7 linked regions of the Homo sapiens genome follow. The protein of the gene in region 1 interacts with the protein of each later gene in a pairwise test. Each region holds a gene or a part of one and is shown in the gene's direction. Other genes may lie near its edges.

Region 1 (4,449 bases):
TTATAAATGGTTAACTTAAGGAGGTACCAGTGAGGCCAGCATTTGAGAACCACAATCCTTTGGCCCGGTATGGTGGCTCATGCCTGTAATCCCAGCACTGTGGGAGGCCAAGGCGGGTGGATCACTTGAGCCCAGGAGTTTGAGACCAGCCCGGCCAACATGGTGAAACCCTGTCTCTACTAAAAATACAAAAATTATCCAGGTGTATGGTGCACACCTGTAGTCCCGGCTACTAAGAAGGCCGAGGCAGGAGAATCGCTTGAACCCGGGAGGTGGAGGTTGCAGTGAGCCCAGATTGAACCAGTGTACTCCAGCCTGGGCAACAGAGTGAGACTCCATCTCAAAAAAAAAAAAAAAAAAAGAATTGACCTAGGGCTTCAGGTGTTACAATGAGATCACATGCGATAAAGACTAAGAAAGCATCCGGGTGTGGTGGCTCGCACCTGGAATCCCAGCACTTTGGGAGGCCGAAACGGGCAGATTGCTTGAGCCCAGGAGTTCAAGACCAACCTGGGCGCAATATGGCAGTACCTAAACTCTGCTAAAAATACAAAAACTTAGCCGGGTATAGTGGCATGCACCTGTAGTCCCAGCTACTCGGGAGGCTGAGGTGGGAGGATCAACTGAACCCTGGAAGTAGAGGCTGCAGTGACCCGTGATCACACCACTGCACTCCAGCCTGGGTGACAGGAGCGAGACCGAGTCTCAAAAAAAAAAAAGACAGAAAGGGCCAGGTGTGGTGGCTCACGCCTGTAATCCCAGCACTTTGGGAGGCTGAAGTGGGAGGATTGCTTGAGTCCAAGAGTTTGAGACCAGTCTGGGCAACATAATGAGACCCCATCTCTACAAAAAATAAAAATATTAGCTGGGTGTTGTGGCACCAGCTTGTAGTCCCAGCTACTCTGGAGGCTGAGGTGGGAGGATCTCTTGAGTCTGGGAGGTCAAGACTGCAGTGAGCCATGATCACACCACTGCACTTTAGGCTAAGCAACAGAACAAGACTCTGTCTCAGAAGTAGGGGCTGAGAAATAACCACTATTTGGATTTAGAAATTGAGTTCTTTGGGCCATGCGCGGTGGCTCACACCTGTAATCTCTTTGGGAGACTGAGGCGGGTGGATCACGAGGTCAGGAGATTGAGACCATCCTGGCTAACACGGTGAAACCCCGTCTCTACTAAAAATACAAAAAATTAGCTGGGCGTGGTGGCACGCACCTGTAGTTGCAGCTACTTGGGAGGCTGATGCAGGAGAATTGCTTGAACCCGGGAGGCAGAGGTTGCAGTGAGCCGAGATCGCGCCACTGCACTCCAGCCTGGGTGACAGAGAGGGACTCCATCTCAAAAAAAAAAAAAAAAAAAAAAAAGAGGTTGAGTTCTTTATAGTAAAATACTATACGTGGAAATCAGATTTTAGTGAGTTGAAGGACTGTGGCTGAGAAAATGGAGACACTTATAGGTTGACTGCTTAAGGAGGAAGAGGCACTGCCATTTATTGAATGTCTACTGGCTTTCAGGTACTCTACTCAGGGTATTTTTTTTTTTTTTTTTTTTTTTTTTTTTTTTGAGACGGAGTCTCGCTGTGTCTCCCAGGTTGGAGTGCAGTGGCGCGATCTCGGCTCACTGCAAGCTCCGCCTCCCAGGTTCATGCCATTCTCCTGCCTCAGCCTCCCAAGTAGCTGGGACTACAGGCGCCCGCCAACACGCCCGGCTAATTTTTTGTATTTTTAGTAGAAACGGGGTTTCACCGTGTTAGCCAAGATGGTCTCGATCTCCTGACCTCGTGATCCGCCCGTCTCGGCCTCCCAAAGTGCTAGGATTACAGGCGTGAGCCACCGCGCCCAGCCTCAGGGTATGTTATATCAGACACGTAGAATGGATTTGATTGCTCTGTCGAACATTTATTTTAGCTAAGAAATTTATGTCTTTCACCCATAGTCATTTTCACTTTGATGTATGTTTAAAGTGCGAATATCTTAATAAGGAAAGGGAACCTCTTTCACTCCTTGAGGCAAAATTCTTGTTCTTCATCTCATATGAGGGGAAAGTTGGTACTGGATTTTGTCTACATTATATCCTCCATCCTCTTCTAAGCCCAAACAGATTTGGGCCGTTATCCCACCTTCCTTCACTCCAGGCCCGGTATGAAAGCCAGCGGATCCAGCTGGAGTCGGAGCTGGCTGTGCAGCTGGAGCAGCGGGTGACAGAGCGGCTGGCGCAGGCTCAGGAGAGCAGCCTACGGCAAGCAGCCTCCCTCAGGGAACATCACAGGTACGTGGGACTCACTGGGTGTCACTTCTCTCAGCCACAGCACGTATCGTTAGTGCCAGGCCTGTGTTCCCTTCAATCCCTTTGCCATGGTCCAGCACTGTGACTCCCAGGGTGCGCTAACTCCCATCAGCTGGGACCTGAGTCTCTCTCGGGAGGGCTGCCTTCACGCGTTCATGGAGAGCCAGAAGTGCCTGGGAATTTTCATCCCATAGGGAGTAGCCCTTAACCAAGAACTGATGGGTGCAGAATGATAGATGGTCCAGCTCCCTCACTGGGACAGTGCTGAGGTATGACCTGTGCTGTCTCCAGAGCTGCTCTGTCGGACTGAGCCTCCTCGCAGCCTGGCCTCACTTCTCCTCACACCCATTCTGCTGCCGAGATTTTCTGGAACTGCTTCCGAAATAAATTTATTTAAGTCTCTGCTTCTGAGGAACCCATCCTAAGACCCCAGCTTTGTCCTTGCCGCTTCCTGTGCCATGGCCAGGCTAGCTGACTGGCTATCTGGGTCACTGTCATGTGCACACATGATGTCTTTTTCTCAGTTGGTCACTTCTTCTGTCTCCAGTCTCAGGCCTCTTCTCCTACCTGTGCCCTGTAGGAAGCAGCTGCAGGACCTGAGTGGACAGCACCAGCAGGAGCTGGCCAGTCAGCTAGCTCAGTTCAAGGTGGAAATGGCAGAACGAGAGGAACGGCAACAGCAGGTGGCTGAGGACTACGAGCTCAGGTCCTGGTCCCCAGAGTGCCCCTTTCAGGCCCCAGCCCCTTTCCCATGGGTAGAGCCCAAACTGGGAACGGTGAAGAGCTGCTCCCTTGATTGATCTGTCCTCCTCTACATGGGCCCCAGCTCCTTTCAGAATATCAGATGTCCAACATTTCCCTTCTGGCTCTTTTTAGCTCCCAAGTATCTGCTTCCTTAAAGGCCCTGAGTCACTTCTTCTCTCTTTGCTTCAGACTGGCCCGGGAGCAAGCGCGAGTGTGCGAACTGCAGAGTGGGAACCAGCAGCTGGAGGAGCAGCGGGTGGAGCTGGTGGAAAGACTGCAGGCCATGCTGCAGGCCCACTGGGATGAGGCCAACCAGCTGCTCAGCACCACTCTCCCGCCGCCCAACCCTCCAGTACGCCTTACCCCTTGAGCTAAGCTTCTCCGTTATGTTCTATTTTTATTTTTATTTTTGAGACAGGGTCTCACTCTTGCCCAGGCTGGAGTGTACTGGTGAGATCATAGCTCATTGCAGCCTCGAACTCCTGGGCTCAAGTGATCCTCCCACCTCTAACTCCCAAAGTGCTGGGATTCCAGGCATAAGCTACCATGCCCAGCAAGAACTGTGTTCTAGATTCCTTCTTTGGAAATCTAGCTCCCTCCCAAGGGAAGTACTAAGTTCAGCTCCTAAGGCCTACATCAGGGGAGAAAAATCGGTGGACTTTACAAATAATAACTGCCTCAGCAAAATAAATCCTTTTTTCCATGGCCATAGCTCACTCAGACTGGCCCCATTCCATTGGGCATAACTCTAGTCTCCCAGTCCCAAGAGGGGACAAATGATACGTGGTACTAGTTTTGTGGAGGGACAGCTGAATTAATTATGAGGGAAAGGGCCAAAAATTGTTGCCAAGTCCTGCCCCAGAGTAGAGTAGGGAGTCTCACTTCCTAGCCCTTCATACGTTGATACTTCCCACTTCCTTCTTTTAATTATGAAATTCTAGCAGGTGTGGTGGTGCGCCTGTAATCTCAGCTATATGGGAGGCTAAAGCAGAAGGATCACTTGAGCTCAGGAGTTCAAGACTAGCCTAGGCAACATAGTGAGACCTCATCTCAAAAAAAGAAAAAGAAGAAAAAATTAGGATATTTTAATTTTAATTTTATTTATTTATATACTTATCATTTATTTATTTGAGACAAGGTCTCACTCTGTTGCCCAGAGCGCTCAAGCAATCTTCCTTCCTCAGCTTCCTGAGTAGCTGGGACTACACACACGTGCCATTGCCCCCAGCTAATTTTTAAATTTTTTGTAGAGATGGCATCTCTCTATGTTGCCAAGCCTGGTTCAAACTGCCAGCCTCAAACGGTCCTCCCAAAGTGTTGGGATTACAGGTGTGAGCCACTGCATCCGGAAATTTATAATCTTATTAAAGTGTTTGTACCATGTCTTATCTCTTTAAACCTACTGTGCTTTGACCCTTC
Region 2 (4,449 bases), on another chromosome or scaffold:
GTACAGTGGCTCGATCTCAGCTCACTGCAACCTCTGCCTCCTAGGTTCAAGCGATTCTCCTGCCTCAGCCTCCTGAGTAGCTGGGATTACAGGTGCCCACTACTATGCCCAGCTAATTTTTTGTATTTTTAGTAGAGACAGGGTTTCACCATGTTGGCCAGGCTGGTCTTGAACTCTTGACCTCGTGATTTGCCCACCTCGGCCTCCCAAAGTGCTGGGATTACAGGCGTGAGCCACCACGCCCAGCCCCATGTTACTGATTTTTAATTGTTCTTTATATATTGTGGTTAAAGTCCTTTATCAGATTAATGATTTACAAATATTGTCTCCCATTCTGTGGGTTGTCTTTTAACTTTAATAATAGTGTCTTTTGAAGCAGTAAAGATTTGGATTTGATGAAATCTAATTTATCTTTTTTTTTCTTTTATCACTTATGCTTTTGGTGTTATATCTCAGAAGTCTTTGCCTAACAGGCTGGGCCCTGTGACTCACACCTGTAATCCCAGTATTTTGGGAGGCCAAGTCGGGTGGATCACCTCAGGTCAGGAGCTCGAGAACAGCCTGGCCAACAGGGTGAAACCCCGTCTCTACTAAAATTAGCTGGGCGTGGTGGTAGGCACCTGTAATCCCAGCTGCTTGGGAGGCTGAGTCAGGGAGGCTGAGTCAGGAGAATGTCTTGAACCTGGGAGGTGGAGGTTGCAGTGAGCCGAGATCACGCCACTGCACTCCAGCGAGAGTCTGTCTCAAAAAAAAAAAAAAAAGTTCATGAAGATTTACTCCTATATTTGCAAAGAGTTTTATAGTTTTACCTCTTACTGTTAAGTCTTTACTCCATTTGGAGTTAATTTTTGTATATGGTGTGAGGTGTAGAGATCCAACTTTATTCTTTTCATGTATCTATCCAGTTGTACCAGCACTGTTTATTGTTTATTGAAAAGACTGTTCTCTTCCCATTGAATTATCTTGGCATGCTTGTTAAAAAAAATAATTCACATATATAAGAGTTTATTTTTGGACTCTCAACACTATCCCATTTTTCTATATATTAATTCTTTTTTTTTTTTTTTTGAGATGGAGTCTCGCTCTGTCACCCAGGCTGGAGTATAGTGGTGTGATCTTGGCTCACTGCAACCTCTGCCTCCCAGGTTCAAGCGATTCTCCTGCCTCAGCCTCTCGAGTAGCTGGAATTACAGGTACTTATCACCAAATCTGGCTAAATTTTTTGTATTTCTAGTAGAGACAGCGTTTTGCCATGTTGGCCAGTCTGGTCTCGAACTCCCGACCTCAAGTGATCCGCCCACCTCGGCCTCCCAAAGTGCTGGGATTACAGGCATGAGCCACCACGCCCGGCCTCTATATGTCATTTCTTATGCCAGTACCACCACGTTGTTTTGGGGAGGGCTTTTCCCCAGCTTTATTGAAATATGATTGACAAACTAAAAATTATATACATTTGAGGTAAACATCATGGTGTTTTGATATAAGTGTACCTTTTGTAATGATTCCCACAATAGAGCTAGCTCACACATTCATCACTTGACATAATTACCATTTTTGTGTGTGTGATGAGAACATCTGAGATCTTAACAAATTTCAATTATTTTCTATAGTTACCATGCTGTATATCTCTAGAACTTATTTACCTCATAACTGAAAATTTTTAAGTACAACACTTTTGATTACTTTTACTTTAGTTTTATAGTACATTTTAAAAATGGGAAGTGTGAGTCCTCCAACTTCTTTTTTAAGATTGTTTTATTTATTCTTAGTCTCGTATTTCCATCTTAATTCATCCATAATAAGGATCAACTTGTTAATTTCTGCAAAAAAACAGCTGAGTTTTGATGGATATTACATTAAATCGATACATCAATTTGAGGAGTATTCTATCTTAATATTGAGGCTTTTAATCTATGAACATGGAATGTCCATGTATTTAGATCTTTAATTTCTTTCGATAATGTATGATTTTCATTGTACAAGTCTTGTATTTCTTTTGTTAAATTTATTCCTACATATTTATTCTCTTTATCCTATTTTGAATCAGTGTTTTCTTAATTTTATTTTCAGATTATTTATTGCTGACATATAAAAATACAATTTTATTTATTTATTATGTATCCTATGGCCTTGCCGAACTTATTTAGTCGTTCTAATTGGGGGGGGCGATTTATTTGTTTATTTATTGTGGAATCCTTAGGATTTTCTACATAGAGGGTTATGTCAGCTGATAATAATGTTTTATTTCTCCCTTTCTAATCTTCATGCCTTAATTTATTGTTCTTGCCTGTTGCTCTGACTGTAATATCCACAACTTTGACTACAGGTGGTGAGAGAAATCATTCTTGCCTTGTTTCCAATCTTGGAAAACATTCAAACATGCTCCATTAAGTATGATATTAGCTTTAGGTTTTTGTAAATCAGGATTTTTTGGTTTTGTTTTTTAATTTTTAATTTTTGTGAGTACATAGTAGTAGGTGTATATATTTATGAGATACATGTGATGCTTTGACACAGGCATACAATGTATAGTAATCACATCAGAGTAAGTGGGTATCTGTGTCCTCAAGCACTTATCATTTCTTTGTGTTAGAATTATTCCAATTCTACTCTTTTAGTTATTTTAAAATATACAATAACTTATTGTTGACTGTAGTCACCCTGTTGTGATATCAAGTACTAGATCTTATTCATTCTATCTAACTACGTTTTGTACCCATTAACTATCCCCACTTTTCCCTCCCTGCCCAATACCCTTCCCAGCTTCTGGTAATCATCATTCTACTCTCTGTGTTCATGAGTTCAGTTGTTTTAATTTTTAGCTCTCATAAATGAGTGAGAACATACAAAATTTGTCTCTCTCTGCCTGGTTAATTTCTCTTAGTATAATATCCTTCAGTTTCATCCATGTTGCTGTAAATGACAGGATTTCGTTCTGTTTTGTGTGTATATCTACCACATTTTTTTATCCATTCATGTGTTGATGAACATTTAGGCTGATTCCAAATCTTGGCTGTTGTGGATAGAGCTGCAGTACACATGGGAGTGCAGATATCTCTGATATACTTTTCTTTTGGATATATATGGAGCAGTGGGACTGCTGGATCATATGGTAGTTCTTCTATTTTTAGCTTTTTGAGGAACTTCCATACTGTTCTCCACAGTGGCTGTAATAACTTGCATTCCCACCAACAGTGTATGAGTGTCCCCCTTTGTCCACATCCTCACCAGCATCTGTTACTGCCTTTTTAATAAAAGCCATCTTAACTGGGGTGAGATGACCTCATTGTAGTTTGATTTGCCTTTCTGTGCTGATCAGTGATGTTGAGTATTTTTTCATATACTTGTTGGTTATTTGCATGTCTTTTGAGAAATGTCTATTCAGATCTTTTGCTCACTTTTTAATCAGATTATTAGATTTTTTTTCCTATTGGGTTTTGTTTAAGCTCCTTATATATTCTGGTTATTAATCCCTTGTCAGATGGGTAGTTTACAAATATTTTCTCCCATTCTGTGGGTTGTCTCTTCACTTTGTTGATTGTTTCCTTTGCTATACAGCAGCTTTTTTACTTGATGTGATCCCATTTGTCCATTTTTGTTTTGGTTGCCTGTACTTTTGAGATCTTTCTTAAGAATTCTTTCCCCAGACCACTGTCCCAGAGAGTTTCCCCAGTGTTTTCTCTTGGTAATTTTATAGTTTCAGGTCTTATATTTAAGTCTTTAATCCACTTTGATTTGTAAAATCAGGCTTTTATCAGCCTTTTATCAGGTTGGGGAAGTTTTTTTAATCATGATTGGATAATGGATTTTGCCAAATGTGTTTTCTGCATCTATCAAGATGATCAGATGGTTTGTGACCACATTCTACTGTATAGTGTATTATATTAATGAGTTCAGATGTTAAACCAACCTTCCATTTCTAGGATAAACTCCCCTTGATCATAATGTATTATCCTTTGTATATGTTGCTAGATTTGGTTTGCCAATATTTTGTTGAGGATTTTTGTGTCCATATTCATGAAGGGTATTCATTTGTTATTTTCTTGTGATGTCTTTGTCTGGCTTTGGTATCAGGGTAATACTGACCTCATAGAACAAGTGAGAGTTTCCTTCTCTATCTTCTGTTAGAGTTTTCAAAATACTCATGTTGTTTCTTCTTTAATGGTTTGGTAGAATACATCACTGATGCCATCTGAGCCTGGGCTTAACCTTGTATAAATATTTTTAATTACTAATTTAATTTTTTTACTTGTTATAGATCTATTCAGATTTTCTATTTTTCTGTTATTTTTTTATCACTATTTTTTTGGTATTTTTTATCTTTTTAGAGTGTTTTTCCAGTGCGTTAGCTTACATATGGGTAAGTTTGCTTCTTAACTAGCGTACACTTTCACTAGTTAAGAAACTAGTCATAATGGCTTCTTTTTTTTAACTTTTTTTTTTTTTTTC
Region 3 (3,305 bases), on another chromosome or scaffold:
GTCCTTATCACCCAAAGGGAGATGACCCAAAAGTGACATCTAGTTAATGTATACTTCTAAAGTTTGCTGTATTCCTTTGCCTTCTTGTTCCCATGCCTCTCTGAACTTAATTTCTGGGTAACTGAGGCTTTTCAGGCTTAGGTGGGAAAGCCACACCCTTAGTCTGTTTCCTTAAGCCATTTTGACCAATTTATGGGATTAACTAGTATAATCTTAGTTGGAGTTTTAGTCTGAGGCATATTAAGTCATTCAGAGATCTTAACAGTAGGTGTCATAGTCATCCAGTGATTTGGTGCTTGCTGCAAAACTGGCTTTTTTTTTTTTTTTTTTTTTTGAGGCGGGGTCTCACTTTGTCACCCAGGCTGGAGTGCAGAGGTACAATCTCAGCTCAATGCAATCTCTGCCTTCCTGGCTCAAGCAATTCTCCCACTGCAGCCTCCTAAGTAGCTGGGAATACAGGTATACACGAGTACACCCAGCTAATTTTTGTATTTTTATGTGGAGACAGGGTCTTGCTGTATTCCCCAGGCTAGTCTCGAATTCCTGGACTCAAGCAGTCCGCCCGCCTCGGGCTCCCAAAATGTTGGTGTTATACGTGTGAGCCTCTGCACCCGGCGGCAAAACTGGCTTTTAATCAACCTTTTGGCTAAAGGATTTCTCTTTTTATTTATTTGTAAAAGGATTTCCCATTTTTATCTTTCTTTTTGATATTAAAATGTTGCCTCATCCTACCCAGTAAGTACTTGAATTTGAATTCTCTTCCTTTTCATTTTTGCCTGCAAACTGACCAGTCTTTTCTGAGTTCATCTCTTCTGTACGTTTTGTCAAGTGCAGTGAACAGCAACTACAAAATATTTTGTTTTTCTGTCTTTTTCTTTAGTAAAGGGTAGATGATCTGCCTTTCAGGTTATCTCAAGGGGCAGTTTCACCTTTCCATAATATAAATTACCCTTGTGTAAGTTATTTCTTCCATCTTCTGATAGCAATTTCCTGAATGCCTGCCAGCTAACCATTAAGCCAGTGTTCAGTATTTTAGCATTTTAAAAAACAAGGGACCAATTTCTGTGTCAGCATGGGCTAGCTTGCCATTGAATAACAAAGGCAAAATCTCACTGTCTCACACAACTTTTCTATTGCAACTTGCCTAGGGACTTTGGTTTAGATCATAGGTTGGCCATGATCAAACTATGGTCCATGGGCAAAATCTGTCTAGCTCCTTATTTATCTAAATAAAGTTTTACTGGAATATAGCCTTGTCCATTTATTTATTATCTGTGGCTACTTTGGTTCTACAATGGCACAGCTGAGTAGTTGCTACAGAGTGTGTACATCTCACAAAACCTAAAATACTTATTCTGTGGCCCTTTACAGAGAAAGTTCACCAATTTGTGCTCTAAGTTGCCTTCATTCTGGGTCTCAGGCTGACAAAGCAGATACCATCAGGAGTGTGGGTGCTAACTTTGGGAAATGAAAAAAGAGTATGGCAAATCACTTAAGGACTCTTAAAGGACTTTCATTGGCCAAAGCAAATCACATAGCCACATTAAAGTTCTAGGAGGAGTGTGATCCTTGCATATACCTGGGAGAAAAACCAGAAATATTTGGAAGACAACACCACTGATTAACATCTTCATTTATATGCTTTCTTCCAATATATTTTCAACTTGTTACTGAGGTAAAATTTAAAAGTGTACCGATATTAAGTGTACACCTCAGTGGGTTTTTATATATGCCCTTGAATGCACCACCCAGGTCAAAATATAGAATATTTCTAGCACTTCAGTAGGTGTCCTTATGTTCCCCAGGCCCCCACCAACCCCTTTTATCACCACGGATTAGTTTTGCCTGTTTTAAAACTTTATGTAAGTGAAATAATTATATGCACTCTTCCGTGTCTTGTTCAACATTGTATCTGTGAGAGTAATCCATGTTATATGTAGTAGCAGTTCATGTTTTACTTCTGTGTAGTATTCCATTGTGTGACTACATCACAACTTACCCATTCTACCGTTGATAGAAATTTAGGTTGTTTCCAGCTTGTGGTCATTATGAATAAAGTTACTATGAAAATGATCACATCTGTCTTTCAGTGAGCATGTGCACCCATTCTTGGCATACTCTTTGGTATGTACCCTGCTTCTATATTTTCCTCATATAGTTTATTCTCTACATAGCATTCAGAGTGATCCTTATTTTAAAATATAAATTAGGCCAGGCGCGGTGGCTCACACCTGTAATCCCAGCACTTTGGGAAGCCGAAGCAGGTGCATCACCTAAGGTCAGGAGTTTGAGACCAACCTGGCCAATATGGTGAAACCCCATCTCTACTAAAAATACAAAAATTAGCCAGGTGTGGTGGTGCATGCCTGTAATCCCAGCTACTCAGGAGGCTGAGACAGGAGAATCGCTCCAACCCAGGAGGCAGAGGTTGCAGTGGCTGAGATCATGCCACTGCACTCCAGCCTGGGCGACAGAGCAAGGCTCCGTCTCAAGCAAAACAAAATATGTGTGTATGTGTGTATATTCATATAAATCAGACCATACCACTTGTCTGCTCAAAATCACCAATGGCTTTGTATCACAATCAGACTAAAGTCCAATGTCTATCATGGCCTACGAGACCCTGCATACTCTGCACCCACACATACTCTGCACACATACCCTTTTTCTTCCTACCATCTTACCTCATACCCTTTATCCCTTTCCCTGTTCCTTCTCACTCTCCTCTGTACTAGACATAGTGCTTGTAAACTTGGGAATCAAAATTAATGATGTGGCCTTGTCCTTAAAAGAGATTGTAATCTAAGTAGATAGTTTTGACATAAGCTATAACACTGGTTTATGTTAAATCAGTTACCCCAATTTATACTGATGTTTAACTCCTGGAAGGGATTTAGAAATTAAAATGCAAAATCTTGACAAATTTGAGGAATGTGTAAGATCTTACCTCCTAATTCTACTAATTCTAAATTAGAGTTTACCAATTTTTGTTTGTTTTTTTTGAGTCTCGCTCTGTCACCCAGGCTGGAGTTCAGTGGCGAGATCTCGACTCACTGAAACCTCTGCCTCCTGCGTTCATCTTCTACTTCAGCCTCCCAAGTAGCTGGGACTACAGACGAGCACCACCACGCCTGACTGATTTTTTGTATTTTTAGTAGAGACGGAGTTTCACCATGTTGGCCAGGCTGGTCTTGAACTCCTGATCTCAAGTGATCTACCCGCCTTGGCCTCCCAAAGTGCTGGGATTCCAGGCATGAGCCACCATGCCCGGCCCGAATTTACCAATTTGGTTATGACATTCATAA
Region 4 (4,449 bases), on another chromosome or scaffold:
CCCCTCTTTCATCCCTGATTTTGGTAATTTCTATTTTCTGTTTGTTTCCTCTGTCAGTCTGTCTTGAGGCTTATCAGTTTTATTAATCTTTCTTTATTGCCTTTTAGTTTCCTTGAATTTTCTCTGGTTGTGTGTTTTCTATTTCATTGATTTAAACTATATTTATTCTTTGCGAATACTTTGTGTTTAATTTGCTCTTCTTTTTCTAACTTTCTAAGATGAATGTATCGCCACTGATTTGAAATCTTTTCTAACGTGTATTTATTTTATAAAATTTTCTCATAGCACTGTTGTATCTCTACGTAACTTTGATGTTATATTTTCATTGCTGTCCCATTCAAAATATTTTTTACTTTACTTTTTCTTACTCATGGATATATAAGAGTTTTTAAACTTGCAGATATTTGTGGATTTTTCTAGTTTTTTTTTGGGTTATTGACTTTGATTTTAATTATTATGTTATACTCTGTATAATTTCAGTTTTTAAAAAGTTTTTGAGACATTTTATTTTCTAGCCTATGATCTATTTTGGTGAAAATTCCATATGTATTTGAAATGAGTATGTATTCTGCCATTGTTAGGTATAGTGTTTTATAAATGTCAATTAGGGAAAGTTGACTAATAGTATTAAGTTTAGTGTTAATGATTTTCTGTTCACCTGTTCAGTCAGTTACTGAGAAAATAGTATTGAAATCTCTTAATTGTTTTGTGGATTTTACCTATTTCTGCTTTCAGTTTTGTCAGTTTTTGCCTTATGTAATTTTGAAGCTTTATTAGGTACATAGACAGCTCCTTGATGAACTGACTGTTGTTACGAAGTTTTCGTTTTTATCTTTGGTAATACTCTTGTCTGAAGTCTCTTGTATCTCATATTAATAAAGCCTCTTCAGTTTTCTTTTTTTGTGTGTTTTCATCGTCTTTTTAAAATTCTTTTAGTTTTAATGTACCTTTTTTATATATTGAAAGTGTATTTCTTGTAAGCAGTGTATAATTGGGTCTTGCTTTTTTATCTCGCCTATCAATTTCTTCTTTTTTATTTTATTGATTGATTGATTTATTGATTGATTGACAGAGTCTTGCTTTGTTGCCCAGGCTAGAGTGTAGTAGATCACTGCAGCTTCAACCCCTGGGGCTCAAGTGACTCTCCCACCTCAGCCTCTTGAAAGCTGGGACTACGGGTGTGCACTTCGACGTCCAGGATATATATATATGAGTTTTTAAATTTCCAGATATTTGTGGATTTTATTAGGTTTTTTTGGTTATTGACTTTGGATTTAATTATTATTTTATTGTACTCTGTATAATTTCAGTTGTTAAAAAGTTTTTGAGACATTTTATATTCTAGCCTATGATCTATATATATTTTGTAGAGATGTGGTTTTGCCATGTTGCCCAGCCTGGTCTCAAAGTCTTGACCTTAAGCAATCCTCCCACCTGGGACTCCCAAAGTGCTGGAATTACAAATGTGAGCCACTGCATCTGGCCTCTTCCTTTTTTTTTTTTTTCTTGAGATGGAGTCTCACACTGTCACCCAGGCTGGAGTGCAGTGCCGCAATCTTGGCTCACGTCTCTTACTTTTCAATTAGATGTTTTTTGTGCTCTCTAATCTGTTAGCTGTTTATGGCTTTTAAATTTTTTGTTAAAATTCATTAAAATTATATCAGCCAAATTTATGTGGCTACTATATTCGACAGTATATAGAAAAATTCTTTGAATAGTACTGGTTTGGATTATTTATGTTTAATGTAATAATTGATATGGATGAGTTTAAGTCTACCATGTTGTTATTCCTTTTCTATTTTTTCTTTGTTCTTTTTTCCTTTGTTCCTTCCTTTTCCTGTCTTTTGGATCGAGTGTTTTTTAGCATCCCATTTCATCTGCTGTAGGCTTATTAGGTATACCTTATTTATTTTTAATGACTGCTTTAAGTCTTATGCATATTTTAACTTACCATACTCTCAAATAATATATAATTTTACTTTTATAATTAGACTTTCACCAAAATATACTTCCATTTTCTCCTACCATATTTTTTGCTATTGTTGTCATATATTTTACTTCTACATATGTTATAAACCCACATTGTTTATAATTTTTAATGTCATACATTCTTTTTATTTATACTTTAGTCAGTTATCTTTTAAATAAGTTACACATATGAAGAAAGTCTTTTATATTTACCCACAGATTTATCATCTCTGATATTCTTTATTATTTTATGTAGGTCTGAATTTCTGTCTAATACCATTTTCCTTTTGTCTGTAGAACTTTCATTAACATGTATTATAATATGGATTTGCAGACATTGTATTCTCTCAGCTTTTGTTTGAAAATTTCTTTTATTTCATCTTCATTCTTTTTTTCTTTTACCACAAACTCAGAAGTTCCTACTAGCAATCTTCATTTTTCAGATACTTGGCTAGATAAAGAATTTTAAGTTTATAGTGTTTTCTTTTTTTTTTTTTTTTTGCACTGTAAAATGTCATCCCATTGTCTTCTGGTTTGCATTGTACATATTGAGAACTCTGTAGTCATTGTAATATTTTTTCTCTGTATGTAGTGTGCCTTTTTATTCTGGATGCTTTTAGGGCTTTTTTTTTCATCATTATTTTTCAGTGAATCAATTGTGATATGTCTTGGTATTGATTTCTTTGTGTTTATTCTACTGTCTTAGTTCATTTGGGCTGCTATACCAAAACTAACTGGGTGGATTATAAATGACAGAAACTTATTTCTCACAGTTTGGGAGGCTAGAAAGTCTAAGATCGAGGCGCTGGTAGACTTTGTGTCTGATGAGGGTTCAGTTCCTCAGAGATGGCTGTCTTCTCACTCTAACCTCATATGGCAGAAGGGAGTGCTCTTGGGCTATGTTTTATAAGGGCACTAATCCCATTCCCAGTCATCTCCCAAAGGCCTCAGCCCCTATTATCATTGTCTTGGGAGTCAGGATCTCAACATAAGAATTTGGTGGGGGACACAAACATTCAGAGTGTAGCATCTGCCTTAGGTTCATTGTGCTGCTTTGATTTGTGAGTTTACAGTTTCCATCAAATATGAAACTTTCAGGCTTTTTTCGAAGTATTTTTTTTTTCTGTTCCCTCTCATTTTGGTAGTCTCCTTAAAATAATGTCTCACAGGTTGATGAGCCTGTGTTCACTTACTTTCTAGCCTTTTTCCTTTCTATGCCTTGGGTTGGGTATATTTTATTGCTATGTCGTGAGCTTCAGGTTTACTGGCCTTTTTTTTTTTTTTTTTTTTTTTTTGTGACGGAGTCTCGCTCTGTTGCCAGGCGGGAGTGCAGTGGCGTGATCTCAGCTCACTGCAACCTCCGCCTCCTGGGTTGAAGTGATTCTCGTCCCTCAGCCTCCTGAGTAGTTGGGATTACAGGTGCTCATCACCACGTCCAGCTAATTGTTTGTATTTTTAGTGGAGATGGGGTTTCACCATGTTGGCCAGGATGGTCTGGATCTCCTGACCTCGTGATCTGCCTGCCTCAGCCTCCCAAAGTGCTGGGATTACAGGTGTGAGCCACTGCGCCTGGCCGACTGGCCTTTTCTTTTGCTGTGTCTAGCTTACTGTTATCCCTATCCAGTGACATTTTCATTTCAGGTACTGTATTTTTTTTTTATCATTAGATGTTTCGTTTGGATCTTTCTAATGTTTTTCAGTTTATCTCCTCATTATCTTTACATTTTCCCTTCCTTGAACATATTTATGATAGCTGTGTTAAAGTCTTGGTTTGCTGTTTCATTTTCTCTTGTTTTTTCCTGTTCTGTTTCAATTAAATGATTTTTCTCTTGAATATGGGTCACATTTGCTTGCTTCTTTGAATGTCTAGTAACTTTTAATTGGATGCTGAACCCTATGAAACTTATATTGTGACTGCTGGATTTTGTTGACTTCTTCAGAGAGTATTGAGTTTCCTTTTGGCATACAGTTAATTACTTGTGAATTAGCTTAATCCTTTTCAAGGATTGTTTTTAAGTTTTGTTCGTATGCACCTAGAATAGCTTTACTCTAGGACTGGTTTAGCCTTTCTACTAAGGCATGACCTTTGTGGGTTCTCTGCTGATTGTCATGGATGTTCAGCGAGGTTTCTTTATTCTGGTTGGGAGGAACTAGAATGTCTTCCAGCCCTTTGTGAGCTCTGGGGATTGTTCTGCTTACAGCTCTTTGGTAATTGTTTTCTCCATGGTAATTTTTCTTTGCCTGACCTTGTGGACTCTCATCCTCAGCATGTTCAGCTTGGTCTTTCTTTAAAGACTCCAGGGGTCCTTTAAGTAGATTTCTGGCACCCTTTCTCTGTGTAACTTCCCATCTGTACTTTTGTTTCAGCCTTCACAAAGTTCAAATTCCGTTTCCTTTGCTCAGTGAGATTTTCATGTTCTGCTTGGGTTACCCCTCTATGCCACAGTCTAGAAAGTGCCTTTAGATAAAAAGCTGTAGAGA
Region 5 (4,449 bases), on another chromosome or scaffold:
ACAGTCAAATTAATAATACTATTCCTAATAAATACATATTTTATGAGTAACTTTTCATGTTCTCCCAGCCCACAAAGAAAATAACACTATTCCAGAATATGTTTATTTTAAAATTTTTTTTTAACTCTGGAAGTTTAGTTCCTGCTAATGAGAGCAACATGCTTTCGAGTATCAAGCAAAGTTTCAAAGTAATAGATAAAATAGAAGACAGTTTTATTAGGAAGATTTTCTTTAGCATTTCTTCTAGTCTTGAGTAGAATTAATGGTGCTATTTCATGTTCTTGGTGCTAGATAACATTGGGATAGGGCTGAATACATGAGGTCAAACTAACTTAATTGAAGACCAACAAATGAAGCCAGTAATCGAGACATTCGGATGTTTTTTATGTACATACTCATTTAAAGTTCTCAAGTACATGACTTCAGGAATTTTTTTTTTTTTTTCTTTTTTTTTGAGACAGAGTTTCTCTCCGTCACCCAGGCTGGAGGATCACAGCTCACTGTAGCCTCAAACTCCTGGGCACAAGTGATCCTCCCACCTCAGCTTTCTGAGTAGCTGGGGCTATAGGTGCATGCCATGACATTTGGCTAATGTTTTCTGTTTTTACTTTTTTTTTTTTAAATCTTTTGTAGAGACGGGAGTCTTACTATGTTGCGCAGGCTGGTCTCAAACTCCTGGCCTCAAGTGATCCTCTCACCTTGGCCTCCCAAAGTGCTGGGATTACGGGCATGAGCCACCATGCCCAGCCTAGGAATTCATTTTGAAGAATTCTTTTACTCAGATTTTAAAATATAGAGAGAATATATAAAGACAGTGAGTAGGAAAGCATTGTCTAGGTACTGGTCTTTGTTAAAGAGTATAAACCTTTGGGAAGATCATGAATCTTTCTTCAGAGAACACATAAAAAAAAAAGTTCCAGGAAGAATAGCTGTCACAGCATTTTATTTGCAGTTTAATAAGGCCAGTTGTATATTGATTGATTATATGCCATTTTTAAATTTTGAAAACTATCTTGGGTCATTTATGTATATAAATAACTGGTACTACAAAAGTGTTTTATTTTGGGTTTAGATTATCAAATACAGAAGTAGAAGCCAAGATTGAATGTGTTCCTGTGATTGAAACTTTGATGTCACTGATAAAATATCCCCAGATAAGGCCTTCTAAGAGATCTAAGCAGAGTAAGAATATGTCTGATTGGAAATATATTGTTTTTCTTGGCTAATTTGACCAAGGGCTCTAGAAATTATATGGAGGGTATATGCCAGCCGTACTCTTGTTTTTTAGTTTCTTGTCTAAGCAAAAAAATTGTTCTTTTGCTATAGACGCAATAGAACTAAATCTATAGTGTTATGCACGTTACTTGTAAATTCTTATGTCAGGACCAAATGGTCGCTTATATTTTTTCCAGCTCCCAAATTCCCTTTATTCCACTTTAGTCCCTTCATTTTCAGAGATGAGGAAACAGATTGCTTTGTTCAAAGACAGCTAGAACTAGAACACAGGCTAATACTTGCTAGCCATGTGATATACTAATGTCAGCCAAATACGGGCATTTACACTTTCAGATGTTTGCCATATCTGTGCACTTACTAATTCTATTTAATACAATTTAAATTGACTCCTTTAAATAAGCTTATTTTAAAGGAAATTTTTTGCTACTATAAATAGAAAACCATTATATCCTTTAAATAGTAACTCTAAATAGGAATTCAAAACAAAGCAACGTTATTAAAATTTAATTTAAAATTAATTTAAATTTAATTGTTATTAAATTTTTAATTATTGCTGTTCTTCGTCAGAAATGTGTCAAAGCATTGTTTTCATGTTTGATGTCAGTTCCTTAATTGTCTAAACAGAAAAAGCACAGCTAATGCCTCTAGTTAAGCTTCTGTATAACTTTTTTAAATGAAATGCTTCTTAGAGGGGAAATGAGAGGGCATGAATACATGTTTATATACTAAAGTATGATTTCATGTATATCAGAAGATCTTATTATATGGAACCAAAATTATTCTTTGGTTGATTTAATTGTTCTTGAAACTTCAGTTTTTACCTTGAAGGTTTTAGTTAGCTTAGCATAAGTTTATTTTTCTAAATAAGGAATCTGATTGCCTCACAACTCAGATGTATCACAGTTATGGTGAAATAGCAATATATTGGTTTCTGTAACCTTTTAAATACCGTAATGAATTAAAATCTCTTCAGCAAAAGCAAATATATCTAGGGTGACGAGAGGTGTTTTTAGTGTATTTGAATGATGGAAATGTTTTTCTTAAAATATTTCTGAAGCATTTTTTAAAATAATTTTTTGAATTTATTGATGATAGTAGTTGTGTGTTAGTGTGAATGACTGGTCTAAATGTGTATGTCACTTCCAAGGGATTAGTAGGGGTCAGAATGATTTGTTTTATTCATTGACTTTTCCTTTGACGTGTTCTTATTCATTGGGCTACATACATTCCCTGTTGCCTTCTCACCAAAAGTGCCACTACACAGGCTGTATTTCATTGTACTGTAGAAAAAGACAAGTAGACCTTTTTCATTCATGAGATTCCTATGAAATCTGTTGGTGGAGGTATAAAATGAGGAGACTTTTATGGGCTAGCTAGTAGGAGTTTTGCTGTGAAACCTTTGTAACAGGTCTATCAGGAACTAGGGAGAGAAATAAATGCAGGAAATACTTGATCCCATTAAACTGAGGATGAAAAAGACATGATAATATTTTGGGGATTATTTATTGTGTGATTTTCCGGCTGATCAGAAGTGTTAATTTTTTGTTATACTTGTGTCAAATACATATATATATATATATTTTGAAATGGAGTCTTGCTCTGTCACCCAGGCTGGAGTGCAGTGGTGCGATCTGGGTTCACTGCAACCTCTGCCTCCAGGTTCAAGTGATCCTCCTGCCTCAGCCTCCCGAGTAGCTAGGACTACAGGCACGTGCCACCACGCCCTGCTAATTTTTGTATTCTTAGTGGAGATGGGGTTTCACCATGTTGGCCAGGCTGGTCTTGAACTCCTGACCTCAAGTGATCTTCCCACCTTGGCCTTTCTGAACTATTTCCTTTACACACATTTAGAACTACATCTAACTGTATTATAGTTTTCACTTTCACCATCAGACAAAATTCAGAAGATTCAAGAGAAGGAAAGTCGATTGTATTTACTCATATTTTTGCTACCGTGTTTTTACATCTCATATTTTAAGGTTCTTTTATTTATTTATTTTCTGTTTAGTTAATTTCCTCTAGCCATTCTTTATTTATAGTGGGTCTGCTGGTAACAAATTCTCTCAATTTTTCCTCGTCTGAGAATGTCTTGACTTCCCTTCCATTTTTGTCAGCACCTGAAAAATACTATGCCACTATCTTCTGGGTTCTGTGGTTTCTGATGAGAACTCCACTGTCAGTCTAATTGTCGTTATAAATGCAGTGTTCTCTCTCTCTCTCTGCTTCCAGGATATTTTTTCTTTTTTTTTTTTTTTTTTTTTCTTGAGACGGAGTCTCACTCTGTCGCCCAGGCTGGAGTGCAGTGGCGCAATTTTGGCTCACTGCAAGCTCTGCCTCCCGGGTTCAAGCGATTACTCCCACTTTAGCCTCCCAAGTAGCTAGGACTACAAGGCACACCACCATGCCTGGCTAATTTTTGTATTTTTAGTAGAGACGGGGTTTCACCATGTTGCCCAGGCTGGTCTCGAACTCCTGACATCAAGTGATCTTCCCGCCTCCGCTTCCCAAAGTGCTGGAATTACAGGCGTGAGCCACTGCTCCCAGCCTCTTTATTTTTTCAGCTTTACTCTTTCTTCTGTCTTTTTGACATGTGTGTCCAGTGACACACGTGTTAGATTTTGCTATAGTCTCACGCACGGGTCTATAAGGCTCTGTTTTTTGTTTCATTTTGTTTTTCCTATTTTCTCTCTATTCAGATCGAGTAATTTCCACTGTTCAGTTTTATCATAGCTGCTTTTAAATCTTTGTCAGGTAATTCTGTCATCTAAGTTTTGGCACCTATTGATTATCTTTTGCATTGTTTTTGTTTTTGTTTCTGTTTTTGTTTTGAGATGGAGTCTTGCTCTGTTGCCCAGGTTGGAGTGCAGTGGCACTGATCTCGGCTCACTGCAACCTCCTCCTCCCGGGTTCAAGTGGTTCTCCTGCCTCAACCTCCTTAGTAGCTGGGATTACAGGCATGTGCCACCACGCCCGGCTAATTTTGTATTTTTAGTAGAGACCAGGTTTATCCATGTTGGTCAGGCTGGTCTCAAACTCCCAACCTCAAGTGATCCGCCTGCCTCGACCTCCCAAAGTGCTGGGATTACAGGCGTGAACCACTGCACCCAGCCTATCTTTTGCATTGTTTTAAATCTTGTTCTTGCTAGGATGAATGATTTTCTGTTAAAACTAGATATTTTCATATTATGTTCCTAGGCTCTGGATATTATCTAA
Region 6 (4,449 bases), on another chromosome or scaffold:
GTCAAGAGTTCGTGTGAGAAATGGATCTTTTTTTTTTTTTTTTTTTTTTTTTTTCCTCCTGAGATAGGGTCTCACTCTGTTGCCCAGGCTGGAGTGTAGTGGTGCGATCTTGACTCACTGCAACCTCCACCTCCTGGGGCTCAAGTGATTCTCCCACCTCAGTCTCCCAAGTAGCTGGGACTACAGGCATGTGCCACCACACCTGGCTAATTTTTGTATTTTTTTGTAGAGACGGGGTATTGCCATGCTGCCCAGGCTGGGAGAAACAGGTCTTCTTTTCTGGCGGCAGAGTCTGTGATCATGAGCAGGCCAGGGGTTCTGGAATAGGGAAACTTGTGGGGATTAATTGAAGCTGCCTCATAGGGATCTTGGCAATAGCTAAGGGAGTATGTACGCTGTTGGACATTTTATGGAAGGATTTAAACCTTTAGAAATTGGTAGGATTTGGAGCTCCAGCCACCTGCAATAACAGGTGATTGCTAATAGGCCTTTAAGGAAACACCACCTGTTCAGCTGCCGCCTGTAGTGAAGCTTGTTTTCTTTAGGGAAGATAGGAGCAAGTGCCTGGTTCTTTGTTGCATTTGTGTTTAACTTTTTCCAATCTCTTTCAGTACAGTTGAAAGCAGAGTGTAACAAGGGATATGTCAAGGTAAAGCAGGTAGGTGTATTTATAACTTGGAATTTTATACTCGATGATTTTCTTATGCTGTTGACTTTAGAGTGTCTGTGCCAGCCAGTGAAGGCTTCTCTGTCATGTATGGAAGTGATGGAGTAATATAGGTGAACATAAGGCAAGGTGCTTGGCATATAGTAAGTGGTTAACATAGCAGTGGCTATCTTACTGTAGGTGCTGTTGCTATTATTATAATTATTTTCTGATTGTTTATTCCATAGGTAGGAGTCAATCCCACCAGCATTGACTCAGTCGTAATTGGGAAGGACCAAGAGGTGAAGCTGCAGCCTGGCCAGGTTCTCCACATGGTGAATGAACTTTATCCATATATTGTAGAGTTTGAGGAAGAGGCAAAGAACCCTGGCCTGGAAACACACAGGAAGAGAAAGAGATCAGGCAACAGTGATTCTATAGAAAGGGATGCTGCTCAGGAAGCTGAGGCTGGGACAGGGCTGGAACCTGGGAGCAACTCTGGCCAATGCTCTGTGCCCCTAAAGAAGGGAAAAGATGCACCTATCAAAAAGGTGAGGGTAGTGTGATTGGTAGATGATGTGGAGAAGAAATGAAATATAATGACTGCTTAATTGTTTTGTACACTTTAAAGTTCAGAAATGCGTGAGGGGTTATTAACCATGATGAAAGAGTCACTTGTTTGTGGCGTGAAAATCATTTGGATGAATGTTCCTTTATGTGCTTTTTTCTTAAATTCCTGAGGTAAGCCACCTGAAGGTACAACAATAATGGCAGTGTGTACTTAACATTGAACAACTAAAGTGGATCAGTTGTTTATGCATCTATAGAAGGTTTTCATAGATCATGTAATTCATATGCTGATGTCAAAGTGGAGAATTGGTCAGGCTGTAGCTGCAGTGAGAGAGGGCAAAGAAGGTATGACTCATACTCTGGCATTTCTCGCCTTCATTTAGAACAGCCAGCTGTGAATATAGGAAGGCTGGCTGGGTGCAGTGGTTCACGCCTGTAATCTCAGCGCTTTGGGAGGCCGAGGTGGGCAGATCACTTGAGGGTCAGGAGTTTGAGACCTGCCTGGCAAACATTGTGAAACTCCATGTCTACTAAAAATACAAAAATTAGCTGGGCCTGGTGGTACACACATGCTTGTAATCCCAGCTACTCGGGAGGCTGAGGCGGGAGGATTGCTTGAACCTGGAAGGCGGAGGTTGCAGTGAGCTGAGATTGCACCACTGCACTCCAGCCTGGGCGACAGAGCGAGACTCCATCTCAAAAAACAACAACAATAATAAAAAACAGCTGGGTGTGCTGGCTCACGCCTGTAATCCCAGCACTTTGGGAGGCCGAGATGGGCAGATCACCTGAGGTCAGGAGTTCGAGACCAGCCTGACCAACATGGCAAAACCTAATCTCTACTAAAAATACAAAATTAGCTGGGCGTGGTGGTGCATGCCTATAATCCCAGCAACTCCAGAGGCTGGGCAGGAGCATCGCTTGAACCCGGGAGGCAGAGGTTGCAGTGAGCCGAGATCACGCCATTGTACTCCAGCCTGGGCAACAAGAGCGAAACCCCATCTCAAAAAAAAAAAGAAAGAATATAGGGTCGGGTGTGGTGGCTCACGCCTGTAATCCCAGCACTTGGGGAGGTGGAGGCCAGTGGATCACCTGAGGTGAGGAGTTCAAGACCAGCATGGCCAACCTGGTGAAACTCCGTCTCTACTAAAAAATACAAAAGTTAGCTGGGCGTGGTGGTGGGCACCTGTAATCCCAGCTACTTGGGAGGCTGAGGCAGGAGAATCACTTCGGAGGTTGCAGTGATCACGCCGCTGCACTCCAGCTTGGGTGAGACAGAGTGAGACTTTGTCTCAAAAAAAAAGAGAATATAGGAAGGCAATGGAGTGAAGCAGAGTCAAGTGAATCTTGTTTAATTCTCAAAAACTAAGCTTATTTCCAAGTTTAGTTGTGCTATCACACAGTATTAACTGTTGCCAAATTTAATTATTGGCATTTGTAATTTACATTGCTTGTTTTTTTTTTTTTTTGTTTTTTTTTTTGTTTTTTTTTTAGGAATCCCTGGGCCACTGGAGTCAAGGCTTGAAGATTTCTATGCAGGACCCCAAAATGCAGGTCAGAATACAATTTTGGAATTTCAGTACATTTCATGTTGTAAATGACCACTCCACAGAGGTCTTAATTACAAATGAAATCAAAGGATATCAGTCTTTCTGAATGAGATTCATTTTATTGGGCTGTTCTGTGAGAACAAGAGGCTTTTCACATTGGCAATAAAGTAGCAGCTGTCATTGTTTGGAGAGAAAGCTGAGTTCTTCAAATGAATATCCCCTCTGCCTTGTGCCTTTTAAACTTCTGGGTACTTTAAGGGAAGTTGCATTAACCTTAGTATGGTTCCTTTCAGGGGAGCATCAGAGATAATACACTGTGACAGTAGTACTGTGCTGCCCTGGCATTAACAGTCAGACATCCCTGTAATCCCAGCACTTTGGGAGGCCGAGACGGGAGGATCACCTGAGGTCAGGAGTTCGAGATCAGCCTGACCAACATGGAGAAACCCTGTCTCTACTAAAAATACAAAAAATTAGCTGGGCATGGTGGTGCATGCCTGTAATCTCAGCTACTCGAGAGGCTGAGGCAGGAGAATCACTTGAATCCGGGAGGTGGAGGTTGCGGTGAGCTGAGATTGCACCATTGTACTCCAGCCTGGGCAACAAGAGCGAAACTCCATCTCAAAAAAAAAAAAAAAAAAAAAAAAACAGGCATCATCCTTGAGGAGCCTTTGAGTCCCACTTCAATTATATTCCTTGTTGACAAGGGGCAGGTCTAATAGGGCTCACTGGAACCCACGTGTACGTGTCACACAGTCTGCCATGTTGGAGTGGAGAAGGATGCTTTTGAATTTATGTCTACAGAGATTTTACATCACATTCTTGGGAACTATTTTGTACTGTGCATCTTCTGTGTATTCTGTGTAGTGTGGTGGTTGAAAACAGACTCTGGAGTCAACCACATCTGAGTTGGAATCCTAGATTTCCCTCTTAGGAACTATGACTTGTGCAAGACACTCAACCTGTCTGAATTTCAGTGCTCTCCTCTCTCAAAACTGGGCTATTAAAACCATTTGCACAAGACTGTGGGAATTAAGTGACTTAGTGAATATAACAACCAGGCACACAGAAGATTCTTAGTAGATGTCTGTTTCCTTCTCTTGTATCCCTCTGCTAGGTTTACAAAGATGAGCAGGTGGTGGTGATAAAGGATAAATACCCAAAGGCCCGTTACCATTGGCTGGTCTTACCGTGGACCTCCATTTCCAGTCTGAAGGCTGTGGCCAGGGAACACCTTGAACTCCTTAAGCATATGCACACTGTGGGGGAAAAGGTGATTGTAGATTTTGCTGGGTCCAGCAAACTCCGCTTCCGATTGGGCTACCACGCCATTCCGAGTATGAGGTAAGCCAGGTGGGTAGTGCTGCTGGCTCCTGGTTCTGTCCAGGTGGGCAGATAGATTCAGCCTGGGCTTGCTGAGGGCACATATTGCACTGAGACCCAGGGAAGTGGGATGGAGTTTTTCCAAAGCAGGTGGGCTGAAGCTTCCACCTCTCTGCCTGACTTGCATGCAAGCTTTGAGTTCCCACTTCTGCCTATAATTCAGTCATATTTGGTTCTTTGTTCCTCTCAAAATATAAATCTTCGAGAGCCTAATATATGAACTAGATGAAGCAGCTTCATTATCCTCAGATAAAGAATTGTGGTCAGTGGCTTTTATCAGATTCTTCAAAAGCGTCTATA
Region 7 (4,449 bases), on another chromosome or scaffold:
CTCTTGTTGTTGTTGTAGTTCTGCAGAAACCTTTAGGATGACTTTGGAATCTTGCATGGTACAAAGTATCTCAAGTGGCTTATGGAAGTATTGCTTCAAACCAATGCGGTGTCTCCCTAAGAAAAATTCTTGTCAATACAGTTTTATATGTATACATATACATTGGCACTGTCAACCACTTCTTGGCATATGTGTATATGTGCCTCATTCATTGTTTTCTCTTTTATTTGAGCTTCTGAAGGGAGGCATGCATCTTACAGACCTTGGTATCTATCTGCTACAGCTCCTTGCATGGCCCCTTGCACAGAATAGTCATTTAATAAATATTTTAAATAAACTAATTGCTTGCTTTGTTCTTACATAAAAAATTAACATTTCCCTAAGCATAACATCATTAGCAAGCTAAATTGACTTTAGCAAACATATATATAATTGATCCTATCATTTAAATCCAGCATCTGTGGTATGATGGTGGAAGGGAATTGTTGGTTGGGGGATGGAGGTTTAACAATTTTGTATTTTCACCCAACCTTACTTTTGTACTTAACGTGGGGAATCTCTGGTACAGTGTTTTTGTACTTCAGAAATACGTTGAGCATGTTTCCAGTTGCCAGCTTCCAGTGTGCAGCCTTTGGGTAGTACTCACATTACAAAGTTCCCATGTGCTGTCTGGGAACTTTCTCTCTGCCAGGAAGAGAAATGTCCTCCTGTGGTCCCAGCAGAGTGTCCCTGGCTCCCTGGTCAGTCCGCCTTTTCACTGAGGGGACCTCACCCATATTACCGAAAAGGCTGTTTTTAATAATCTGTGATCTGTGTGCCAAATCTGCCTTCACATTGGCTTTTTATTCTTGGAGTGGTTGGATTAGATTTTGGTTTGGGCTTTTTTCATTTATAATAATTCTAGAATGTCACATACTGTGAAATACTAAGTGTGGATGAGCGGCAAAGCTGCTTTAAAACTCACCTGTCAAGAAGCAAGAAGAGAGAAAGCTTACTCATGGAGAGAATGATCAGGCTCATATTTTACATTCTTTTTGCATTGGTGCTTCCCCCATTTTCCTACTGTGGGAAACCCAACATACAGCAGTGAGGAGTTAAGAAGTCACACCCTCACTTGGGTTGTATTAGGATTAATTACCTGTGCAGATCTTGGATAATTGAAGCAATTACTCTTCATTTCAGCTCCAGGGCCTGGAATGGATGGTTTCCCTGTATAATAACAACTTGAACGGAATCTTAGCCGATGAAATGGGGCTTGGAAAGACCATACAGACCATTGCACTCATCACTTATCTGATGGAGCACAAAAGACTCAATGGCCCCTATCTCATCATTGTTCCCCTTTCGTAAGTAAAGTCATTTATTCCACAGTCATCGTTCTGTATGTTGTAGAGTGCCCGATTAGTAGCTTGTCCTTGTTTTTTACTTAAGACAGAATTGTAGCATGTACTAACCTAAATCCAGATTACCAAGAGCATGTAATCTGGATTTAGGTTTTAATTTCCCACCCCTCCCCATCCTAGCCTGTTTGATTGGCTATTTAAGCACGGGACCGAGTGATTTTATCGGCCATCAGCATTACAGGTCTGCACAGCCTGAACACTGCATAGTGAGTCTTGCTCATCATTATTCCTTAAGTGGCTCACAAAGGGGAAAGGTGTGTGTGTGTGTGTGTGTGTGTGTGTGTGTGTGTGTGTGTGTGATTTCTTTGATTTTTTCCTTATTCCATTTCCAAAAGATGATATATTCTTAAATCTTCCTTTTAAAAGCAGAACATAAATCAAAATCATAACTAGGAGTTTTGCATTAAAATAACCTTAGTATGTGCACTGAGGTTATGTTTCAATGAGTTTGCTGCTTAGTAAGGACAGGAGTTTGCTGTTCGCCATTACGTTCCCAGTGCCTCACCTGCTAGGTGGTTCTTAGAAGGTCCTAAGTGGGCACTACCGAGTGAGGGCACAGTGATTCACAAGCACCCTCCTGGGAGTTCAGTGTGTCTGCCTGTGGGTGTTAGGTTGCAGTTTTGTTCACCAAGGTCTTGTTATAGATCTCAATGCTGATATGAACTTGGACCTTCAGTAAGAAGAAGGATTCTATTAATATTATTGTGTTTTCTTTGAATTTTTTCTAATGAAGACTATTTGCAGCCCTTTTTGTATGAATTATCTGTATCTGTAATATTTAGGCATCTTTTGCATTTGATCTATATTTTGCGTGTTCTGAATCATATATACAGTGACACTTTCAGGGCTTTAAAAAACGTCATTCAATATTTCTTCCCCTGTTCCCTCTTGACAGATTTATTTTATGTTTTCATGTGGTTTTATAATTTCTTTTTCCTGACTCATCTTTTTTCTGAACCTATATGGCTGTTTATGAAGATTCCTAAAATCATTCTGGCAATTGCTCTTTTTTAATATCATATTACAGTTTAGTTTTTTGCTCTCTATATTTATGTATTCTTTAGTTTTTTTCTTACAAGATTTTTTTATGAACCACAAACTTGTCATGTTTTGTGACAGTTTGTTTTGAACTTATCTCCTATTTCCACACCTTTAAAATAAATATCTTGTTGAGATATGTTATATTCTGTAGCCCCTTTCAAGGTGAGGCCTGAACATGAATAAGAACATCTTTTTAACCATTGATTTTTATACAAATGTCTTTTTTCTGTTGTTTTTTTTTTTTGTTCCATAGGACTCTATCTAACTGGACATATGAATTTGACAAATGGGCTCCTTCTGTGGTGAAGATTTCTTACAAGGTTTGGAATGCTGTATTTATATATAAATGTGGAAAAGCAAAAAATAGACCCTATTTTCTTCATTCCATATGCACATCTGTGAACTGTATTTGGTTGTAAAGTTTTGTCATGTACATCATGTACTAAACCGTGAGAGTTAATCATCCCAAGAAGATTACTGTAATAAACCATAATTACTTTCAGATAGTGAAATCCAGAAGAAAATTGTTAATTATCATATTGCAAGGTTTCTGATGAGAGTAATACAAATGACAAATATCACACATTCTGCGTGCTGCTGACTGGCTCGCTGTGGGCTGCTACTGTGCTGACTGTTCCTGCAAAGTCAGGCAATTACCCGGATGCCCGGGGCTGCCTGCTGTACTTTCTCAACAGAACTGGAGCCTTTCAGCAGAGCGGTGGGTTCTCTACTACCACAAATTCACTGTCATTTCCATTTCCCTTTGCCCTCCCACTGTCTTTGGTGGGAAAACCTTTCTAAAAAAAGATCTGAAAAGGGTCAAGACGTGTAATTTAGCCAAAACTTCCTCGTGTATAATAGATCAGTCTATGAGAATGTGTGTCTGTGCATTCTTCAGTCACATGTCTGGGCATCATTAAGCTATGAAAAGTGAGAAATAATGCACATATATGTCCATAGGATCATGCATGTATTTTTTTCTTTCCATTCAGGGTACTCCTGCCATGCGTCGCTCCCTTGTCCCCCAGCTACGGAGTGGCAAATTCAATGTCCTCTTGACTACTTATGAGTATATTATAAAAGACAAGCACATTCTTGCAAAGGTATGTTTTTAAAAAATTATTTTCTCTCTAATTAGGACCATTGCACTGGAATGTGAAGTATTGCCCAAGTCAGTAGTGTAATTGGATCCTTAGATGGCTTGTCCTTTTCTTTATTTTTCTAAAATTTTTTCAGAGTTTGATATGTTTTGGTCGTGGATTTGATTTCATGCATGCTGTGTGTGTGTGTGTGTGTGTGTGTGTGTGTGTGTGTGTGTGTGTGTTTATGATTGATCCTGGGGCGGCTCTTGTCTATCCCCTCAGAGTTGATGAGTTTACATCTCTTAAAAAAATTCACCTGGTTGCTTCTGCAACTCTTTTTCTCTCTAACAGCTTTGCACATTCTCGGGAAAGAAATAATTGTTTTTGTTGCCCTGAGATATTGTCAGTGTACCTTCATTCTTCTTGTGCCTTTGTTTCTCCAAAGATGAGCCAGACACCTCTCCATATGGTCTCCACCATATGAACATTTATCCAAGCCGTGGCTTTTGTGGTAGTCTTGTTTCAGGTTTTTCCTGGTGAAATAATAGACTATCATTGTTGGAGTTACTTAAGGTTGTTTCTGTGACTATTTATTTGAAACTGAGAAAGAGGTGTTTCTGTGACTTACATGTCTCCTAATTTTTATGTCCTAAGTTGTTCCTTAGCCACAAAGTAGAAATTTTTACTCCCATTTATATCATCTTGTCTTCTAATACGTTCATGTAGAAAGATGGAAGTGCTCTCTTTCGTGGAACAAATAATGAAAACTCTTTTTTTTCCTCTTTAGTAATTTTTTTTACCCCATGACGTTTTGAAAGCACTATAATCTGAAACTAAGTTATGTCCAAAATTGAATAGAACCTCTATTTCTGGGGTCTATTCTACCTCTGCATTAAACTCTTGCTCTGGGAACTGAGAGTTCC

Evidence for each region.
Region 2: the proteins of CNTROB (region 1) and TTC23 interact in binary tests that used the Homo sapiens proteins (3 or more experiments, as listed by UniProt).
Region 3: the proteins of CNTROB (region 1) and EPM2AIP1 interact in binary tests that used the Homo sapiens proteins (3 or more experiments, as listed by UniProt).
Region 4: the proteins of CNTROB (region 1) and CWF19L2 interact in binary tests that used the Homo sapiens proteins (3 or more experiments, as listed by UniProt).
Region 5: the proteins of CNTROB (region 1) and PELI1 interact in binary tests that used the Homo sapiens proteins (3 or more experiments, as listed by UniProt).
Region 6: the proteins of CNTROB (region 1) and APTX interact in a two-hybrid assay, tested with the Homo sapiens proteins (one large-scale study listed by BioGRID and IntAct).
Region 7: the proteins of CNTROB (region 1) and SMARCA2 interact in a two-hybrid assay, tested with the Homo sapiens proteins (one large-scale study listed by BioGRID and IntAct).

The regions. Positions count from the first base shown.
Region 1 is NC_000017.11:7,941,257-7,945,705, forward strand, and holds part of CNTROB (centrobin), read left to right. Parts: intron 1-2,134; coding exon 2,135-2,268; intron 2,269-2,866; coding exon 2,867-2,992; intron 2,993-3,219; coding exon 3,220-3,382; intron 3,383-4,449. UniProt on the Homo sapiens protein: Required for centriole duplication. Inhibition of centriole duplication leading to defects in cytokinesis.
Region 2 is NC_000015.10:99,242,133-99,246,581, reverse strand, and holds part of TTC23 (tetratricopeptide repeat protein 23), read left to right. Parts: intron 1-1,071; 5' UTR 1,072-1,193; intron 1,194-4,449. UniProt on the Homo sapiens protein: Participates positively in the ciliary Hedgehog (Hh) signaling.
Region 3 is NC_000003.12:36,983,811-36,987,115, reverse strand, and holds the end of EPM2AIP1 (EPM2A-interacting protein 1), read left to right. Parts: 3' UTR 1-2,073; downstream 2,074-3,305.
Region 4 is NC_000011.10:107,447,158-107,451,606, reverse strand, and holds part of CWF19L2 (CWF19-like protein 2), read left to right. Parts: intron 1-4,449.
Region 5 is NC_000002.12:64,109,296-64,113,744, reverse strand, and holds part of PELI1 (E3 ubiquitin-protein ligase pellino homolog 1), read left to right. Parts: intron 1-1,072; exon of another isoform or gene 1,073-1,182; intron 1,183-4,449. UniProt on the Homo sapiens protein: E3 ubiquitin ligase catalyzing the covalent attachment of ubiquitin moieties onto substrate proteins. Involved in the TLR and IL-1 signaling pathways via interaction with the complex containing IRAK kinases and TRAF6.
Region 6 is NC_000009.12:32,984,292-32,988,740, reverse strand, and holds part of APTX (aprataxin), read left to right. Parts: intron 1-611; coding exon 612-658; intron 659-894; coding exon 895-1,197; intron 1,198-2,710; coding exon 2,711-2,770; intron 2,771-3,883; coding exon 3,884-4,110; intron 4,111-4,449. UniProt on the Homo sapiens protein: DNA-binding protein involved in single-strand DNA break repair, double-strand DNA break repair and base excision repair.
Region 7 is NC_000009.12:2,080,650-2,085,098, forward strand, and holds part of SMARCA2 (SWI/SNF-related matrix-associated actin-dependent regulator of chromatin subfamily A member 2), read left to right. Parts: intron 1-1,182; coding exon 1,183-1,346; intron 1,347-2,697; coding exon 2,698-2,764; intron 2,765-3,436; coding exon 3,437-3,547; intron 3,548-4,449. UniProt on the Homo sapiens protein: ATPase involved in transcriptional activation and repression of select genes by chromatin remodeling (alteration of DNA-nucleosome topology).